Regions from separate parts of the Homo sapiens genome. Here regions 2, 3 and 4 are each reported to be linked to region 1. The links are microRNA targets in miRTarBase. Many come from high-throughput screens and were not tested one by one. Region 1 holds a microRNA gene; each other region holds the end of a gene's coding sequence.

What was found. Region 1 holds the annotated microRNA hsa-miR-5701 (UUAUUGUCACGUUCUGAUU, at 2,534-2,552, opposite strand). A microRNA usually pairs through its seed, bases 2 to 8, with sites in the 3' UTR of a target mRNA and lowers its output. Matches are read on the target gene's strand: a 7mer-m8 pairs with bases 2 to 8, a 7mer-A1 pairs with bases 2 to 7 and ends in A, and an 8mer does both.
Region 2: the mRNA of TOP1MT is a reported target of hsa-miR-5701. Seed matches in the 3' UTR shown: 7mer-A1 at 816-822.
Region 3: miRTarBase lists SH2D1A as a target of hsa-miR-5701. Seed matches in the 3' UTR shown: 7mer-A1 at 3,326-3,332 and 7mer-A1 at 3,268-3,274.
Region 4: miRTarBase lists INF2 as a target of hsa-miR-5701. Seed matches in the 3' UTR shown: 7mer-m8 at 5,021-5,027.

Annotation. Positions count from the first base shown.
Region 1 is chr15:21,511,372-21,516,519 of GRCh38, reverse strand. MIR5701-2 (microRNA 5701-2) reads right to left here and starts at 2,561; the gene lies at 2,480-2,561.
Region 2 is chr8:143,305,032-143,310,179 of GRCh38, reverse strand. It overlaps TOP1MT (DNA topoisomerase I mitochondrial), which reads left to right. Exons shown (of 14, transcript NM_052963.3): 13 at 1-112; 14 at 637-856. The coding sequence ends at 739. Among named protein-coding and RNA genes, the nearest start is that of ZNF696, 16 kb to the right of the region's middle. RefSeq lists enhancers at 1,873-2,373, 2,374-2,874.
Region 3 is chrX:124,370,658-124,375,805 of GRCh38, reverse strand. SH2D1A (SH2 domain containing 1A) reads right to left here. Exons shown (of 4, transcript NM_002351.5): 4 at 2,646-4,455. The coding sequence ends at 4,415. Among named protein-coding and RNA genes, the nearest start is that of SH2D1A, 27 kb to the right of the region's middle.
Region 4 is chr14:104,714,427-104,719,574 of GRCh38, forward strand. INF2 (inverted formin 2) reads left to right here. Exons shown (of 23, transcript NM_022489.4): 21 at 1-430; 22 at 858-914; 23 at 4,369-5,148. The coding sequence ends at 913. Among named protein-coding and RNA genes, the nearest start is that of ADSS1, 7.2 kb to the right of the region's middle. RefSeq lists an enhancer at 250-1,189.

The sequences.
Region 1 (5,148 bases):
CCCTACAAAGCTCCTACTACCTGGCCACCGCCGCAGCCCTGCCCCTGCCATGGCCGCAGCTGGCCGTCCTCCTACCGCTCTGGTGCGAGGTAGTCTCGGTAGCTGCCACCAACCGCAGCAAGGCGAGCAGCAGCCCCAGGCTATCTGCAAGCTTCCAGCATGTAACTCCTCCTCCTGGCATGGAACAGCTGGACACACAAAGCCAAAAAAGCCTAGAGGAGAATGCAGAGACTGATAGCGTTAGAGCCTCACCTTGTCATCCTGGCCACTGGGTGGCAGGGGCCAGTCTCAGTGAAGGCACTCATATCCACCCTCCAAAGTCCAGCCTCTCCTTTTGGCTCAAGCGGGCCAGGAACTGGGACCTGGAGTGGTGACTGGTAACATCACACTGCCTGGCTCCAATCCACAGGAACCGCTGGGCCCACCAGGACTGCGCTCCTTGGGGAACAAAATCAGCAGGAACTCAGACACAGCCAGCCCTCCCACCCAAATGCCGGTTCCCCATCCTGATGCCTCCACCCACAGAGCCCTGTCTCCCCGTGGTGTCCCCGCCACTCCGTGTCCAGCGTGCCTAGGGGTGCCAGGTGGTCTCCGCAACACAGAGCGAAAAGGGCGTGGCCCCGGGAACCACGGCGGGTAAGGGGTCCTTGCCGTGCTCAGGATTACTGCGGAAACGCCGTGCGCTCGCTGCGCTCTAGCAGGAGCAGGAGGAGATCGCCTTTTAGAGTCTGAAATCCAGAAAGAGGAAGAAGGCTCCTTCCTTGGAGACCCTGTTGCTGCAAGCTCTGCCGCCACCAGCAAGGCAGCCCCTGATGGCGCCCCTAATCCGCTGCCTGATGTTGGCTCTGGGATAGCGCCCCCAACACCGCCCCTCGCCGCTGCAATGTAAAACCCAATAGCGCCCCCAACCCATCCCTGCCTCGGACGTCGCAGCACCAGATAACTCCCCCATCCTACCGTCTGCCGTCGGCCATGCAGCCACGGATAGGACCTCCAACTAACCCCCGGCTGCGGGCAGTGATGCCCCGGAGAGCACGGCCACCTGCTCCATGCCGTCAATAGTGCAGCCATGGATCCTTAAGGTCCCCAACCCCCTCCCCACGACGAGCAGTGCAGCCCTACATAGCAGATAGCACCCCCAACTATCCCCCACTCAGGGGGAATGATGCCCTGGATAGTGCACCCCACCCGCACCCCGCCATGGGCAGTGCAGCCTCCGACAGCACCCCTAACCTGTATACCGCTGCCAAAAATATGGTCCCCGATAGCACACCAAACCCAGCCCCCACCACAAACAGTGCAGCAGCTGATAGAGCACCTAACTCGCCCCACCGCCACTGACCACAGTGCAGCCCCCGAACGGTGCCCACAACCCACCCCACCACCCCGCCTGCCACCGGCCGGGTATCACCCCCAAACCGCCCCTTGCTGTGAGGAGTGTATCCCCTAGTAGCGCACCCAAACCTGCCCTCTATCATGGGCAGTCTGGCCCGATAGTGCCCGAAACCGCACCCTCCAAGCACCTACCCGCACCCACCGCTGCCCCGCCCCACCACCAGCAGTGTAGCACCTGATACTGCCTCTAACCTCTCCCCTGCCATGGACATTGCAGCCCCACATAGCGCCCCCAACAAGCCCCCACCATGGGCAGTGCAGCCCCAGATAGCATCCCCACACCGCTGTCAGCAATGAAGCCCGACCAGTAAGCACCCCCACCAGTCCGCACCCTAACCAGCCCTCCCACCACCATGCCGCCGGCAGTGCAACCACAATAGCAGCCCCAACCCGGCCCCTGTCGCGGGCAGTGCAGCACCCAATAGCGCCCCCAACCAGCCCTACTGCTGCCATCAATACAGCCCAAGATAGTGACCCCAACCCGCCCCCCACCAACCCCCCCCCCACCCGCTGCTGAGGGCAGTGCAGCCCCGGATAGCACACCTAAAAGCAGTGACGCCCAAAATAACACTCTAGTACACCCAAAGTAGTGACACCCGGAATAATACCCCAACCAGCCCCCGCCGCGGGCAGCCCTGGATAGCTTACCTACCCCATTGCCTTTCTACACTCTGGCCAGCTGCAGTATCCGTCGCTGCCACCAACCACAGCGAGGCCAGCCAGGGAGGCGAGCCAGCGAGGCCAGCCGCAGTCCTGCAGGCTCTAGCCTACAGCCTATGGTAGGTGCCTTCTCCTTCTTTCCTTCCTGTAGCCAAGCACGGAGCAGCTGTCACTGCCAGCTGCCTCTCTCCATTGCCACCACACACCATTCAAGGCTCCAGGGCTCCAGGTTCCAGGCTCCAGCCTGCGGCAGCACACTCTGCTGCCGCTTTCTCCAAACTCTGCGGGAGAAGTAGAGGCTAACACACGATAGCCTGCAACAGCGCGACGCCCCCTTAGCATAGCTTATATACTGGGGGTTGTGCAGGCCTGGTTCTCGGACTTCACGTTCTGATTGGATGAAAGAAACATCTACGCCTACTCTGATTGGACGTTATTTTCATGTTCTGATTGGATCAGAACAAGTCTTAGGCTAACCAATCAGAACGTGACAATAAAGTCCAATCAGAGTAGGCCTAGTGTTTTCCTCTCATCCACTCAGAACATGTAGTTTATAATCTCGGTATATAAAGCATGTTAAGAGATAGAGTTGCACTAGTCCAGCCTCGTCGGCGTCTGACTTCATAGCTGCTCCATTGCCAGCTTGGAGTAGGAGGTGCCAGCCACTGCATGCTGGAGGCTGCAGCCTACCGGGCTGTGGCTGGCCTCCCTGGCTCACCACCTCGCCGGCTTGCCTCGCCTTGCCTCGCTGGCTTGCCTTGCCCGCTGCGGTTGGTGGCAGCGATGGACACTGCAACCGGCCAGAGTGTAGAAAAGCATCGGGGTAAGTGGCTATCCAGGGCTGCACTGCCCTTGGCCTGGGACGGGTTTGGGGCCCTATCTCAGGCGTCACTGCCCACCTTGGGTGGCTGGTTAGGTGTGCTATCTGGGGCTGTGCTGCCTGCACCGGGGGGTGGTTTGGGGGCCCTAACCGGGGCTGCACTGCCCTCGGCGGGGAGCCTGTTGGGGAAACTATCCCAGACTGTATTGCTGGCAACAGTGAGGTGGGCTAAGTGTCCTATCCAGGGCTGCACTGCACGGCTGTTGCGGGGGGTTGGTGGTTTCAGGTTGAGGGTGCTATGGGGTGCTGCAATGCCCGTGGTTCGGGGAGGCGGGGCGGTTTGGGTGTGTTGGGTGCGCTATTGCGGGGGGGCTACACTGCTGGTGGCAGGGGGCAGGGTGGGTTGGGGGCCATATCAGGGGCTGCACTGATTGCTTTAGCTAGGGTTTCCAGTACTATGTTAAATAACAGTGGTGACAGTGGGCATCCTTATCATGTTCCAGATCTTAGAGGAAAAGCTTTCCATTTTTCCCCATTCCATATGATTCTAGCTGTGGGGGTCTCTCATGTGGTTTTTATTGTGTTGCAGTATGTTTCTTCTGTACCCGTTTTTTGAGGATTTGTAGCATGTTCCCCAAATTGAATATACCATTTTTTAAAAAGAGACTGAGTCTTGCTGTTATGTTGCCCAGGCTGGTCTCAAACTTCTGGACTTACGCGATCCTCTTCTGCCTCAGCCTTCAGATAGCTGCAGCTATAAGCATGCACCACCGCACCCAGCTTGAAGGTACTGTATTTTTAATTCCATATTGTCAAGCGTTTAAGTTACTTTTCTTTAAAAAATTAATATTAATTCAAAGGAAGAAATTGGCAGAGTGAAAAGACAACCTACAGAATGGGAGAAAATATTTGCAAAGTATGTATCCAGCAGAGGATTAATATCCAGAATATACAAGGAACTCTTGACATCTCAATAGCAAAAAAAAAAAAAAAAAAGAACCCAACTGAAAAATGGGCAAATGACCTGAATAGATATTTCTTAAAAGATGACAGACACATAACCAACAAATATGTTTTCCTAAAAAGCTCAACATCACTAGTCATCAGGGAAATGCAAATCAAAACCACAATGAGGTGTCATCTCACCCCACTTAGAATGGCTACTATCAAAAAGACAAAAAATAGCAAATGCTGGCAAAGATGTGGAGAAAAGTGAACACTTAAATGTGGCTAGTGGAAATGTAAACTAGTACAGCCACTATGGAGAACAGTGTGGAGGTTCCTCAAAAAACTGCAAATAGAACTATTATATGGTCCAACAATATATTATTGGACATTTATCCAAAGAAAAGGAAATCAGTATATTGACGAGACATCGGCACCCCCGTGTTTATTGCAGCACTATTCACAATAGCCAAGATATGGAATCATCCTAAGTATCTAACAACAGATGAATGCATAAAGAAAATATGGTATACATACACAATGGAATACTATTTAGCCATAAGCAAGAATGAAATCCTATAGTTTGAGGCACATGGATTGAACTGGAGGACATCATATTAAGTGAAGTAAGCCAGGGACAGAACATTAAGTACTGTGTGTTCTCATTCATTTGTGGAAGCTAAAAAAATGTTGATCTCATAGAGGTAAAAAGTAGAACAGAATACTACAGGCTGGGAAGCATAGGGTGCAGGGATGGTAGAAAGCAATTTGTTAAAGGTTTCAAAATTACAGCTAGATAGGAAGAGCAAGTTCTAGTGTTGTATAGCACTGTAAGATGACTGTAATTAACAACAATATGTTACACAGTTTCAAAGAGGAGGAGGATGTTGAATGTTCCCAGCACAAAGAAATGATAAATGAGATTATGGATATGCTAATTACCTCGATTTGATCTCTGCAAATCTATGGGAATGTTACTATGTTATTCATAAATACTAATAAATACATCAAAAATTTTAAAATTAATAATGAACAAAAGATAAGGGGCCCTGAACTCTAGCTTTAGGGCTGAATTGTATCCAGTCAGATGGTTTATATGTTATTTAAACTTTCACTTTAAATTTGGAGTGGAAATATGTTTGGAAATCCTTACTTTTAGTATGTTGATTTGTGTGTGTGCGTGAGGTAAATCTGGTTGGCTATTGGCAAATGTACTGGGTAGCTACTTAATAAAACATTTCCTTCCAGTGTTTCAGCTTTCTGATTCTTAGAACATGTGTATATTTAACATAATATGCATTATCACTTTTGAAAGTAGTTATTCTAAC
Region 2 (5,148 bases), not on the chromosome of region 1:
AGGAGCAGCTGGCGCAGCTGAGTGTGCAGGCCACGGACAAGGAGGAGAACAAGCAGGTGGCCCTGGGCACGTCCAAGCTCAACTACCTGGACCCCAGGATCAGCATTGCCTGGTGCGTGTGCCTGGGGTCTCAGTTCCCACCTGTGGCCTATGGGGGGCCTGGGTTTTCCAGGAGGCCTCTGTTCAGTCCCAGCATTGCCCTTGTCCCGTGTCCCCTGGGGTCAGCACAGGCCCTCCCTGTGACAGGGACCCATGATGCTGAGTCCTGTGTCATCAGCTCTCCCTGCCCTGAACGTTCGGATGGACAGGGTGAAGTGGGGGTGCTGACAGTGGCCTGGGACTCGGAGGCATCAGGAGGGCCTGTGGAGCTCAGCCTGCCCACAGGGAGTGGGAGGTGGCTGAGCGCCCTGCTCGGTGGACACCTAGGCCACAGCAGGTTGTCTTTGACACCTCGCTGATGCTCCAGGGTGGCGGCATGCGTGGGGTGGGGTTGGCCTAGAGGAGCAGGTCCCAGCTACACCAGGCGGCTCTGGTGTCTCTGCTGCATGGAGGACGCTCGCCCTTGCCGAGCACCCTGACCTGGCCTTCAAGGTGGGTGAGTTGCCTGCTTGCCTGGGCTGATGCTGCCTCCCGCAGGTGCAAGCGGTTCAGGGTGCCAGTGGAGAAGATCTACAGCAAAACACAGCGGGAGAGGTTCGCCTGGGCTCTCGCCATGGCAGGAGAAGACTTTGAATTCTAACGACGAGCCGTGTTGAAACTTCTTTTGTATGTGTGTGTGTTTTTTTCACTATTAAAGCAGTACTGGGGAATTTTGTACAATAAAATGTGTGCAAGTGCTTGTACATCACTAGAAAAAGTCCCCAGGCCGGCCGGGCACGGTGGCTCACACCTGTAATCCCAGCACTTTGGGAGGCTGAGGCGGGCGGATCACAAGGTCAGGAGATCGAGACCATCCTGGCTAACACGGTGAAACCCCATCTCTACTAAAAATACAAAAAACTTAGCCGGGCGTGGTGGCGGGCGCCTGTAGTCCCAGCTACTCGGGAGGCTGAGGCAGGAGAATGGCGTGAACCCGGGAGGCGGAGCTTGCAGTGAGCCGAGATCGTGCCCCTGCACTCCAGCCTGGGCGACAGAGTGAGACTGTCTCAAAAAAAAAAAAAAAAGAAAAAGAAAAAGTCCCTAGGCCAGGCACAGTGGCTCATACCTGTGATCTTGGCATGTTAGAGGCCTGAGGCTGGAGGATTGCTTGAGCAGACATTGAGGCTGCAATGAGCTGTGATTGCGCCCCTGCACTCCAGCCTGGGCAACAGAGCAAGACCCCATCTCAAAGAGAAAGAAAAGTCCCTGACGCCTGCCGTGTCCTTTGAAGCCTCCACCCCGAGCATGGAGTCTGCTGGGCTGTCACATCCAATCAGCGTCCCAGCCTGGACCCCCGGTTCCCGCTCGACAGGGGAGGAGAAACACCTTCGTGTGCTCTGAGGCTGAGGACTTTGGGTGAGGATTCCACATTTGCGCACGCGCCACCCTCTCAGCGGGGCCCGGACTCTTCACCAAGTTCTTTAGCGCCTGGAATTCAGCAAGGGCACAGTTGCTGCCTGGTCACTAAGCCCAGCGGCCCCCGTTCAGTTCTCATCACCTCCACACTCTCCATACGTAGCTCTTAGCTCTTACGATGGCCTTCTGCCTGAGCTTCCCAACCCTGTATCCTCTCAGAGCTGCCTGTCGGCTGCCCTCTGCCACGCGGGATCCTCTGCCGCCCTCTCTGCCACGCGGGACCCTCTGCCGCCCTCTTCTCTGCCACGCGGGACCCTCTGCCGCCCTCTTCTCTGCCACGCAGGACCCTCTGCTGCCCTCTTCTCTGCCACGCGGGACCCTCTGCCACCCTCTCTGCCACGCAGGACCCTCTGCCGCCCTCTTCTCTGCCACACGGGACCCTCTGCTGCCCTCCTCTGCCACGCGGGACCCTCTGCTGCCCTCTTCTCTGCTATGCGGGACCCTCTGCCGCCCTCTTCTCTGCCACGTGGGACCCTCTGCTGCCCTCTTCTCTGCCACGTGGGACCCTCTGCCGCCCTCTCTGCCACACGGGACCCTCTGCCGCCCTCTCCTCTGCCACGTGGGATCCTCTGCTGCCCTCTTCTCTGCCACGTGGGATCCTCTGCCATGCGGGACCCTCTGCCGCCCTCTCCTCTGCCGCCCTCTCCTCTGCCGCCCTCTTCTCTGCCACGCGGGACCCTCTGCCGCCCTCTCCTCTGCCACGCGGGAACCTCTGCCGCCCTCTCCTCTGCCACGCGGGACCCTCTGCCGCCCTCTCCTCTGCCACGCGGGACCCTCTGCCGCCCTCTCCTCTGCCACGCGGGACCCTCTGCCGCCCTCTCTGCCACGCAGGACCCTCTGCCGCCCTCTTCTCTGCCACGCGGGACCCTCTGCTGCCCTCTCCTCTGCCGCCCTCTTCTCTGCCGCGCGGGACCCTCTGCCGCCCTCTCCTCTGCCACGCGGGACCCTCTGCCGCCCTCTCCTCTGCCACGCGGGACCCTCTGCCACCCTCTCTGCCACGCAGGACCCTCTGCCGCCCTCTTCTCTGCCACACGGGACCCTCTGCTGCCCTCTCCTCTGCCACGCGGGACCCTCTGCTGCCCTCTCTGCCACGCGGGACCCTCTGCCGCCCTCTCCTCTGCCACGCGGGACCCTCTGCCGCCCTCTGCTATGCGGGACCCTCTGCTGCCCTCTCTTCTGCCACGCGGGACCCTCTGCCGCCCTCTCTGCCACGCAGGACCCTCTGCTGCCCTCTTCTCTGCCACCCTCTTCTCTGCCACGTGGGACCCTCTGCTGCCCTTTCCTCTGCTACGCAGGGCCCTCTGCCGCCCTCTCTGCCACACGGGACCCTCTGCCGCCCTCTCCTCTGCCACGTGGGATCCTCTGCTGCCCTCTTCTCTGCCACGTGGGATCCTCTGCCACGCGGGACCCTCTGCCGCCCTCTTCTCTGCCACGTGGGACCCTCTGCTGCCCTCTGCCACACGGGACCCTCTGCCGCCCTCTCCTCTGCTACGTGGGATCCTCTGCTGCCCTCTCCTCTGCCACGTGGGATCCTCTGCCATCTGCTCCGCGCTTTGCTTTCGGGGCTGCCTCTGTGGCTGTCTCCCTCACACCGGGGCTCCCGCCAACCCCATGAGGCAGCCCCTGTGTAAGGCTCCTGGTCAGCCAAGAGGACCCCAGCGCCCTGGAGGCTGCACCCCCATCCCTCCTGCTGTGGGGCCCTTGGTGCTCCAGGCCCGAGTCTCTCACACCGCGGCTCACCCGCTGCCCCAAGGGGCTCCGGCAGCAGGTCCAGCTCCTCCCGGGGCCTGTGACAGAACAGTTCCAGCAGGGGGCTCTCACGTCCCCACCTGCTCCCAGAGAGGTGCTTCTGTGCCCAGACATGGAACAGCTCCACAGAAAATGAGGGCACTGGCCGAGCAGGCCCAGACTCCAGAAGGGAAACCACTGAGGGTGCAGGCCCGACCCACATCACCTCGGAGTCTGTCCTCGCGGAGACGGTGATGGGCCTTTCCCTCTCTGTACAGATGAGGACACACAAGGAGCTGACTTCATGCCTGGACATTAAGCCCAGGAATTCCCAGCCTAGAGCTGGCTCTCTAGGTTGCGGGGTCTGGTCCCAGTCCAGAAACATCTCCCAAGCCACAGCTCAGGACACAGCAGGGTGGGGGTCGAGGGGGTGAGTGGGAGCTCCAGGGAGAGGCCCCTAAGGCTGTTCCCCGTCATCAGAACTTGCAGGCCAGTGGCCTCTAAAGGTACTCATTAGAGGGGTGTGGACCTCACTTGCCCAAAACCCCGGGACTGCTCAGCGCATCCTTCTGAGACGTGAGGCTGTGACCACCTGCTGCCTCAGCGTCCCCTTCTCACCCCGAACAACCTGCCTTTAACCCAACTCTCCAGACTGACACGATCCCTGTAGACTGTCAGAGCCTCGTTTGGATAGTCACAGACTACCTGGATAAAAGATAAAACATGGCCGGGCGCGGTGGCTCACGCCTGTAATTCCAGCACTTTGGGAGGCCGAGGCGAGCGGATCATCTGAGGTCAGGAGTTCAAGACCAGCCTGGCCAACATGGTGAATCCCTGTCTTTACTCAAAATACAAAAATTAGCCAGGCATGGTGGCAGGCACCTGTAGTCCCAGCTGCTCAGGAGGCTGAGGCAAGAGAATCACTTGAACCTGGGAGGCGGAGGTTGCAGTGAGCTGAGATTATGGCATTATCCTCCAGCCTGGGCGACGAGTGAAACTCCATCTCAGGAAAAAAAAAAAAAAAAAGATAAAACATGCAGAGTAGAAACCCCAGGTGGACAGATACCTGTCCCACCCAGAGAAAAGCTGGGTGGTGCCATCGACGGGCAAAAGTAGTGGAAAAGCCAGCTGCGTGTGCTGGTGCGAGATGCGTTTCCATGATGGAGGATGCCGCGCACTCAGCCTCTCCTGTTATCCTGTGGCCTGCGAGCCCTCTCTTAAGTGCACCAAGAGCAGCAAGGGACTTAGAGCAACTTCATTCACTGCTGCCCAGGCGGAAAAGGGCGCCCAGGCCCTGCAGCTGGAACTGGGTAACAGGCCGGGTGGAGACTCACACTGGATCCCACTCAGCCATGATCACAAGAACAGAGCGACTGCTGCTCGGGTCTCACGGGCGACTGACAGCAACCGGGAGCCCTGACGCCTTCCCGACACCCCCTGTTCCATCCACGAACAGGCACGCCCGCCGTTGTTTGAGTTTTTACATGTTGACACCCCCTGCTCCATCCACGAACAGGCACCCACCGTTGTTTGAGTTTTTACATGTTGACACCCCCTGTTCCATCCATGAATGGGCAGACCCGCCATCGTTTGAGTTTTTACATGTTTGTGAGTAATGTTCCATCTCAACAGCCTGGGCAACATAATGAGACCCTGTCTCTCCCAAAACAAGCAAACAAAAACCCCCAAAATTAGCTGGGCATGGTGGTGCGCGCCTGTAGTCTCAAGCTACCCGTGGGGCTGAGGTTGGAGGATGAGCCCGGGAGGTTGAGGCTGCAGTGAGCTGTGATTGTACCACGGCCCTCCAGCATGGGTGACCCTGGCTTAGGAAAATTTGTAATAATAACATCCCATCTCTCAGTTTAC
Region 3 (5,148 bases), not on the chromosome of region 1:
CACCATCTTGAAAATGCAGGTACAGAAATCAAAAAGTCACTAATCCTAGGCAGACAGCTCTTCATTTTTATTTTTCATACAAATAGGATCTCTGACACAAGTGACCATTTAATAAACAAAGAAGAGTAGCTGCTGCAAATTTAAATGCCTCTAGGCTGTGACTTCCTTTAAAAAGGCTTCCCTCTCCTTTTGGTGCCTTTCTCAGCAATAGAAAGAAAATAAAAAATTATAAAAACGGGGTGGGAGAGATATATAGGAGTTCAGGGTGTCCAAATGCACTGGCAAAAAATAATGGATGTTGGGGCAGCAGCCAGTGGGGAAGGGTGTCAGGGAGGGGAGGCAATCATGAAACACTAAAAAAATCCTATGCAATTACAATTGCCATTTGGCACTTGTTTTTCACAAGAAGACATTTACAAGTGACGCTGGGAAATCTGGCCAACAGATCTTCAAAAATTCATCTTGATACTCGCGGAGCACATGTAGTCCAAACAACCCATTACTGAAACTTGGAATCCTGCAATTTACACCACTTCAAAATGCCCTGCTGCTTTTTTATGTGTGTGTGTGTGTGTGTGTGTGTCTGTGTGTGTGTGTGTGTGTATATATATATATATATATATATATAGAGAGAGAGAGAGAGAGAGAGAGAGAGAGAGAGAGTGAAAAGACTCATGGAGCAGAAGACAACCTTGATCATCTCAACACAACCCATCAGTAAAAAACAATGGGGGTAGGGGGTTGTTAGTATCAATCATCTGGAAATTTTTTTCAAAATATGCATCCCACCTCACACTCAGGGTATTTTTTAAAAGGGCAGGAGCTCCTATAGAGAGAGAATTATAATAGGAGACGTTTGTATATTCCTTCCCTATTCACCCTCCCTTTTAGAGATCTGTGACTATCAGTCAATGTTATTTAAACATTCAGTAATATTACTACCTTAAAGTTATACATATATGTAATTACGCACACACATATATGTAAATTATTGTACCTTAATAATCTTGTGAGGTTAGTACGACTTAATTATTCCTACTTGGCAAATGCAGTAACAGTAACAGACTGACTTACCTAAGGTCACGTGGATAATCAGTGACAAAGATGAAAAACAGTGGGAGTTGAACAATGAGAACACATAGACACAGGGAGGGGAACATCACACACTGGGGCCTGTCAGGCGGTGGGCGGCAAGGGGAGGGAGAGCATTGGGACAAATACCTAATGCGTGCAGAGCTTAAAACTTAGATGACGGGTTGATGGTGCAGCAAACCACCATGGCACATGTAACCTATGTAACAAATCTGCACATTCAGCGCATGCATCCCAGAACTTAAAGTAAAATAAAAATTAAAAAATAAATAAATAAAATGTTTAAATGGCCCACCAGGTGACTAAAAAAAGAAAAAGAAAAAAAAATCAGTTCTTATGCATTCCTGCTTTTACTCTCTCTGTCCAATACTGAATGTGATACGTAGTATAGCCTTTTGTCATCTTGTGAGAAAACAGTTCTATTTCTGCGTGTATGTGTGCAACCAAGATGTATATATATATCTCAATTCCATATATGTTAATGGACTCTATCCAGTTAGTCAGCCTTATTATATCTTGCTACATTAAAAAAAAAATCTTCATTTAAGAACTAAATGACCTAATGATAAGAATTCAGCCTTTTACTACAAGTTTGGCCAATCACCCCAAATTAGGAAAATGTCCAAACTGGGTAGTTTAACTTCCCCCCTAGTTGCAAACTACAAAATAGTGGTATCCCATTTACTGCAAGAGAAAACATAGGTGTCAAAGTTGAATGTATAGCATCCTAACAGGAAGACCAGGCATCCTATAACCTTGAAATGCTCAAGGGCAAATCTGGGTTTTACTAGTAGTAGACTTTGGATTCTAAGCTTAACGAAGTGAATCAAATAAAACATAAGCTGATGTTGAAACATTATTAACAGAGTTTAAAGCTGTTTCTCACATTTTTAATTCTGTGTCCATTCTACCCGAAAGAATATCTTAAATCCAGCCCTTTATTTATAGCAGAGGACTTAATCAGAGGCATTCTCTATAGACTTATTCTACCTGTGCACTACCACAAAGGTTCCCTGCCTGTAACAGCCAAACAGACAATTACCTAAGCTTGTCTCCCTACTGACCTTATCTCTTAAGAACAAATTTCAGAGGAAATGAATAAGTATTTGATAAGCTGTCATGTTCCTTTTGGGCTTGCTGACACACTTTTTTTTTTTCTGAAGAGAGCTGCACACTTGGAAATATATTGTGCATTTTTCTACCTTGACTCAGCATCTTACAATATGTTAGCATGGCAATATTTTAGATACAGCAAGGATATGACCTTTCTGTAAAGGTGCAAGTGATTACGTACTGGAAAATAGCAAGGATGCTCATGTTGGGAAAGAAAAGGTGAAAAAAAAAAAAAAAAACTTGATGAATAAAAGGCCAGCCAAAGAAGACAGGAAGTAGGCTCATCAACCGGGAACTTGGACAGCAATAAAATCAGAAAAGCACTTACCTTTTCCAGGGAATCACTCCGATAAGATAATCATCAATCCTTTATTTGGTTTATTAATAGCATCAGTCTCTGAATATTTTATAAGGAATTATAAGGAATATTTCAAGACAAATTAGGTAAATAAAGCTTTCAAACACTTTATTTAAATGTGAAAGACTTGATGATTCAAAAAAAGCTTTTTTTCAAAAAAAGGCTCTTGGAAGTGAACATGCAAACATAATTCATATGTTTAGGATTATTCCAGAATGAACACATTATAGAGTTAAAATTAGTTACGCCTATTACAATTTAAACTCAAGCCATATAATTAAAAATTATTAAACCTATGCAACTTATTATGAAAGTAGGATTTTTAAATTCCTTTACAAGTTCATGTGATGCTTTTACCTCAAGAAATGGTAAACCACCCATAATGCATTACTCAGGCCACACTCCACTTTTGTACTCCCACGGCATCCATATTAAATGCTCAGAAATCAGGTCTTGCCAGTACATGGAGAATAGCTCTGTCTCTCAGCAGTTCACTAATTAAAACCAAGTTCACCAACACCCATACACAATCCAGAATTCCCAGTTATTATTTTACAGTGAAGCTTAGCCTTTTCATATGGCCCATGGACCAGAGTATTTGCACTGACCTATCTATCTGCCTCTAAAGACCAGATCTACCTACACACGGGGAACCTCGCTTATCATGTACTTATCAACTTTCATTGTTATTTTTTCCTTGTCTTTTATTGTTATTTTCTTTCACTGTCTTTTATCGTTATTTTCTTTCACTGTCTTTTATCGTTATTGTTTTCTCGTCCAACAAGACAGTGAACTGAGAGCAGGGACCAGGTGTTTTTACTTCTATGCCCTCAGCGCCCTATTATGTTTGTTGAGTGAATGAATTCTGTGAGCCCTGTAGCAAAGTGACATATAATCAATCACAAAATCACAAAAATATAAATGTGAGAAGAAAATGCCGCATAAAATTCTGTATCTCGTGTAGGTTTCAATCACTTGGAATTTTTTTAAAAAATAATACAACCATAAACTTTCCAGTGGTTTTGTAGGGTTACTTTAAAAGGAGGCTTGTTACAAATCAGTTACTCATGAGCTGCAGCTGCTGAAATTTCCCTTCAAAATGAGGTCTTCCATGTAGTAGAAACAACTGGGGCAGAGGTAAATGAAAAGAAAAACTCATTTCATTGGATTTGTAATACAATTTCAAATCCTGTAGCATCAAATACGATAAACATGTTTAGAGCATATTTTAAATTATAAGATTTTCAACTCCAGGTTGGTCTGTGGATTTTACTGTCCAATATCAGAACACTAGGCAAGAAGGTTGCTTTCAGAATTAAACATAAATCCTTCACTCTTTGTTTAGTGCTTGTTTTAGCACACAGTATACAGCTTCAAAAATCCCAAAAGAGCCTATGACACCATAGCTAGTGGAGAACTTGGCAAAGACAAGGGACACCAGCCAACTTCCCACCATACAATCAAGCAAGACATTTTAAAATTAGTAGCTATAAAATAATATTTCACTAAAAATGGAGCTTTTCACAAAAACTGAGGATTATTTTTATTTATATTTGGCAAGAATTGACATTAATCCTTTATAAAGTATTCATTATCCTTTTGTTTCCCATTTGTAAATATAATAACTGAAAATAACCTACGGAATTACTTTTTCCCAATCCTCGTTTCAAAGCTCCTCACTATGTACAAAAGTCCATTTCAGCTTTGACGACATGCTAGATGCTTCCATTACAGGACTACAATGGCTTTAGAAATGCATTTGTAGCTCACCGAACTGTATTATCTACAATATATAAGACTTAGCATATATTTAAATTATAGAAAATAAAGTACAAGGTGTTTTATTTTTCTTCATGGGGCTTTCAGGCAGACATCAGGATCTTCTCTTATCCCTAAAGAAAAATAACAAAAATCAAGAAAAAATAAACTTACAAACTATTAAAATTACAGATTAACTCAAACTTATAAAATTTCCAACTGCATAAAACTCACAATGACACAACACAGTAATATACCTCAAGCAACTATTATTTAAAACTGAGTTATAAAGAATGGAATATTAGGCAGAAAAAAACAACTAGCCAACTTGGAAATTAGAGCTCTATTTGCATTTGTATTATAAAGGCTAACTATTCATTAATTTAATTCACCACTTGAGTCTAATTGTCAGTTTATGCCTGAGCCTAGGTCCCTGTCAAAAAGGGACTCGTTTTCTTTTATCATAAATATTTATTGTTTCAATCAAGGCCTATCCTCTTACTCCAAACAAATGATAAACCCCATTCAATAGAGGAGTAAACAGTCACGTATCAGATAGCTACAGACATTGGCTGGTATTCAGTCTTTAGCACGACACATACACTAAAATAGGTTTGCTCAGGATATGTAACAATATGTGCCAGTGGAACAATAAAGTGCACTATTTAATTTCCTTTGCTTCAGAAAAATGTCATTAATTCAAGCACCACCAATTCAGAAATCAGAATCATGTGTGCCAGGCTAACGTTAGCTTTCATGTCCCTGAAGGAAAAAACAGTTTACTAAGCAAAGATAAAGGACAGCCCAGGTGTTCTCTGAATTATACC
Region 4 (5,148 bases), not on the chromosome of region 1:
GAGGATCCCCAGTGCCCCCAGCCCTTGGAGGGGGCCTGGCCGGTGACTCTGGGAGATGCTCAGGCCCTGAAGCCCCTCAAGTTCTCCAGCAACCAGCCCCCTGCAGCCGGAAGTTCAAGGCAAGATGCCAAGGATCCCACGTCCTTGCTGGGCGTCCTCCAGGCCGAGGCCGACAGCACAAGTGAGGGGCTGGAGGACGCTGTCCACAGCCGTGGTGCCAGACCCCCTGCAGCAGGCCCAGGTGGGGATGAGGACGAGGACGAGGAGGACACGGCCCCAGAGTCCGCACTGGACACATCCCTGGACAAGTCCTTCTCCGAGGATGCGGTGACCGACTCCTCGGGGTCGGGCACACTCCCCAGGGCCCGGGGCCGGGCCTCAAAGGGGACCGGGAAGCGAAGGAAGAAGCGTCCCTCCAGGAGCCAGGAAGGTAACTCAGGGAGGGGCCCCGGGCACCGTCCCACGCCAGGGCGCTGGCACCCAGCCGGTCCCTCCCCTTCCCCATTGGGCACTGCAAGTTCCAGCGGCACCCAGGAGAGGTGACTTGGGTGCGGCACGGGAGAGGAGGCGGCAGTGCGTCCACCGCAGGGCGGCTATGTGGGCTGCCGCGGCCCGTGCAACTATTCCTCCAACCTACTAATTCCGACCTTCACGCCACCTCCGTTAGGGAGTAGGGGGCGGACACCGGGCACCAGGTCCCAGGCAAGTGGCTGCCATGTGGCTTAGTGGCCAGAGAACCGGGCAGCCCTCAGAGGGTGTTGGCATGGCTGTCCCGGGCCCCCCAGCCCCACCCACTCCGAGTCAGGGTTGCTTCTGTGTGATAAGCCGTTGAGTGCGTTTCTTTTATTTGGAAGCAGAGGTTCCCCCTGATTCTGATGATAATAAAACAAAGAAACTGTGTGTGATCCAGTAAGGTATGTACGCAGCCGGCGCTCCGTGGGGGCTAACAGCAGCTGCAGGGCAGTGGGGCTGGAGCTTGCTGCCCACACCCCTCCGGGACACTAACCTGGCTTCTCTCCAGCCCGCGTGGTGCGTCAGTGTGGCCTTGCCGCTCCCGCAGCCCTGGTGGTGGGCTTCCCGCCCCATCCCCTCCCTCTCCGCAGGTTACCTGCTCAACTGGTGCCTCCTGCAGGCAGGACGCAACCTCAGTGCTGGCCCCGGGCATGCGGGCCTCGAGAGGGCAGGTGGCAGGGCCAGCCGGACTCCCTTAGCAAGCAGGATCCGGGCCCTGGGGCGTGGGCGGGACCTCCTGGCTGGCAGGACAGGCTGAGGTTGCTCCTGTCTGGTGTCCTGGCGCTAACTGCAGTTCCAGTAACCCTGTGGCTTTCCTGCTCTGTCTGTTGGTGGAGGGCTATCTTCACTCTAAGTGTGTCAATGGCGTGGGGCCTTCTGGGGCATGTCCCCAGGAAGTCTGTGAGGAGACCGGGACAGTCGCAAGGGCAGATGCTGCCAGGGACAAGTACACTGCAACCCCCCTCCTGTTGGACAGTGTCCTCCCACCCCGAGGCCATGGGTGGGTCTATGGAGAAGCAGATTACCCCCCGCACACCGAGTCTTCTGGGGGGCGACCAGCCAAAGGTCAATCAGCCAGGTCCGTCCACAGGGCTGGAGAGGCCAATGCATCCAGCTAGACAGGACCAGCCTGCACTGGGTGGAGGAGGGGCTAGAGCAGAGAACCAGAAGGTCCAGCCCGGCCGATCATGAGCTCTGTGAGCCCAGGTCGTGGCGTCTTCCAGCACCTCCAGCCTTGCTCAGAGCCAGCCCGGTGTCGGTGCATCACAAATATGCTGACCGCTGGGCCTGGGGCTTAGGCTCAAGGTGCACACCTGAGGTCTGCTGGTGCCCATCAGAGGCAAGAGCAGTCGTGACCCCGGAGAAGCTTCTCCGGACAGCTTGTCCTCGCTGTTGGGGCACGGCCTTCACCCTGGGTTCCAGCTTTTGCTTCCAGGGTCATCTTCCGAGTGTGGCTCTCTGGTGTGAAGCACCCACGTGTACTTTTTAGAAAGGTGCTGGCATCTCCCTTAGAGGCTGGAACTTGGACTTGCTGGCCCTGAGTGTGAGGAACAGTGGAGCATGCAGGTCTGGGGCGGGCGGCCACATCTGACAATGGTCCAGTGAAAGATGGACGTGTCCAGTGCCAGCTCCACGCTCCACCTGGTTCCCTCCTGAACCTGCTACACGTGCTTAGCCTCCACCCGCCCCAGCTCCTGCCACGCACGTGGCTGAGGGCAAGAGGAAGAAGTCCTCTTCTCTCCCCAACTTTTTATTTTTTATTTTTTTTCAAGACGGAGTCTCACTCTGTTGCCCAGGCTGGAGTGCAGTGGTGCGATCTGAGCTCACAGCAACCTCCACCTTCCAGGTTCAAGTGATTCTCCTGCCTCAGCCTCCCGAGTAGCTGGGACCACAGGCACACGCCACCACGCGCGGCTAATTTTTTGTATTTTTAGCAGAGACAGGGTTTCACCATGTTGGTCAGGCTGGTCTCGAACTCCTGACCTCAGGTGATCCACCCGCCTCGGCCTCCCAAAGTGCTGGGATTACAGGCGTGAGCCACCGTGCCCAGCCCCCACCTTTTTATTTAGAAAATCTTCAACACCACAGGAAACTGCATAGATCAGAATGAACAACACCTTCTCCCCGAAATTACAACCATTTGCCAAAAATACCAAAATTGTGACCATTTTGCTACATTGCCCCCCTCCAACTGAGGCATCTGAGAGTTTCTTATAAACATCATGGCACTGGAGCCCTAAACTCGCCCACAGACACCTGAGAGCACAGCCGTCTTCCTCAGTCCCCCCCGGGCAGGGTGCGCTGCCGTCCTCCCAGTCCGCCCCCACCGGGCAGGGTGCGCTGCCGTCCTCCCAGTCCCCCCCCCGGGCAGGGCGCGCTGCCGTCCTCCTAGTCCGCCCCCCCGGGCAGGGTGCGCTGCCGTCCTCCCAGTCCCCCCCGGGCAGGGTCCGCTGTGGGGCGCTTCACGTCCACATGCTTCTAATACTCGGTCCCAGTGCAGATGTGCCACTTGCCCCAATAATTCCTTCTCTAGTTGTTGCTTTGTTGTTTTTGCAAACAAGATTGTATCCAGAGTCACATGCTGTGTTTGGTTATCATATCACTTCAGTCTCTTTTGTTCTAGAACATTCCTGCCCCTTTTTGTCTTGTATGACATTGACGTTCTGGAAGATAACTTCACTTTGGGTTTGCCTGATTGCGCCCCCAAGTAGGTCCAGGTTGAGTTTTGGGGCAGGAGTTCTACCCCAAGGGATGCCATGTCCTCCCCAGCTGGGTGGGGACGTTTGTGGCAGCAGCGCTGACCACGGCTGCGGGGGTGGTTTCTGAACCTCCACTGCACGAACACCACGCTGTCTGGTTAATAAGCACCGGTGGTGACCTGTGGAACCAACCGCTGCAGCGCGGTTCTGTGTTCGCCGCCCCTCGTCCGAGCGTTCCCCCCTCCCCTCCCTTTTTCCATCACGTGAGTTTTGAACGTGCAGTAATCCTTCACTGCCACTGCCGTGCATTTGATGGGGACCAGCGGGGGCCCTGAGCGCTTCCCATCTTTGGCACAAGCCCCTGTTCCTAGCTCACCCCAGACTTGCTGATCCCCCCATCCCTGCACGGGCCTTGGTCTTGGCCATTTCTCCAGGTTCCCTGAGTGGGGAATGGTGCTGAGACCCTCCTTTGAGTGATTGTTTTGGATAGTTTTTGTTTTCTTGCTGTCTGTTTAGAGTAGTGGTTCTCAAACCCTGCTTGGGCCATCCCACTGGGGAGCTGGGACACCACCTGGCACTGTGGTGGCAGTGGGGGTGACACTCAGACAAGGGCCATCGAGGGCCCCTGGACCAGAAAGCGAAGAGGGCGTTGGGGGCAGGAGGCCTGTGGGGCCATGTGTGGGGGCCGTCTGGGTGGCGGGAGCTGTTGGGGCAGGGCTGAGCGCCCTCAGCAGCCCACTGGAGAAAGCGCTGCTGGGGTCCTCGTGTGGGGCCCAGGGCCCGACGTGGAAGCAATGGAGGGCTGCAGGGGGTGGCAGTGGGGATGAATGAGTAAGGACAGAGTGCAGCCTGGGTCTCAGACAGGGGGTGGGGGACAGGCCACAGAGATTCCCTATCTCAGCAGAGAGGAGACAGGCTCAGGCTGCCACGCCTTGCCAAAACCCAGCCTGGCCAGGCCAGCCCGGCACCTTCCACCTAGATAAGTTGTGCTGCTCCAGAGAAAGAGCCTGGGGTCAGAGTGGACCTGCGATGCATGGCACAACCTGCTGGACAGTGGCGATGAGGGGTTCAGGGACCTGGGCACCCAGAAGCGGGCACCTGATATTGTACCCAGCAAAACTGCTCCTAATAATGTCATTTTTTCTCTCTCTTACAGGCCTCAGGCCCAGGCCCAAGGCCAAGTGAGAGAGCCCAGGCCACAGGACATGCTGCCATTCTGCCAAGAGAGGCTCTTCTGGGGGCCAGGCTGGGACTGGGCCCCGGAAACCAAAACTCCGTGCCTTACCCAGCCGGGGCCCTCCTGGAGCCTTCTTGGGGTGTTGTGGCTGGGAACCCGACAGGCACCAGTGCCCTGCCAGGCCTGGTGCCCTCCTGGACCGCCTGCACGTGCCAGCCTCCCACCTGCTTCCTAAAGGCAACCCTGGCCCACACCCGCATGCGCCCGGTGCAGCCTGCCAAGGGCCAGTCGGGGGGTGCTGCGTCCTGCCAGTGTCCACCACAGCTCTGCCTGCCCTTCAGCCCAGCAAGGTTTAATCAAAATGCAATGCTTTGCAAGTCTTTACTGCTTGGAGGTGGCTGAGTTGGGGGCCCTGGGCAGGGGTAAGCTGGCAGGCAGTGCCATGGCAGGCCAGGGTCCCCTCCCATGGGGTCTGGCCCCCGTTCCAGCATGTCCAGCCCCTGAAGTTGGAGTGGGGGGCGGTCTGCCTTTGCTGCCACTGCCAGGCCTCTGCCCTGCAGCTGAAACTTGGCCATCACATCAACAGAAAACCCCTCCCAGTGCCAGCTGCCCAGCGTGGGCAGGCCCTGGGGACAATACAGGTCCACCTGAGGGGCTGCAGGGTGACACCCAGCAGCCGCTGCCCCCTCACTGCCCACCCAGCGAGGGCAGCCTACCCGAGCCTGCCCCCTGCCAGGTGTGTGCCCTGAGGCTGGCGGC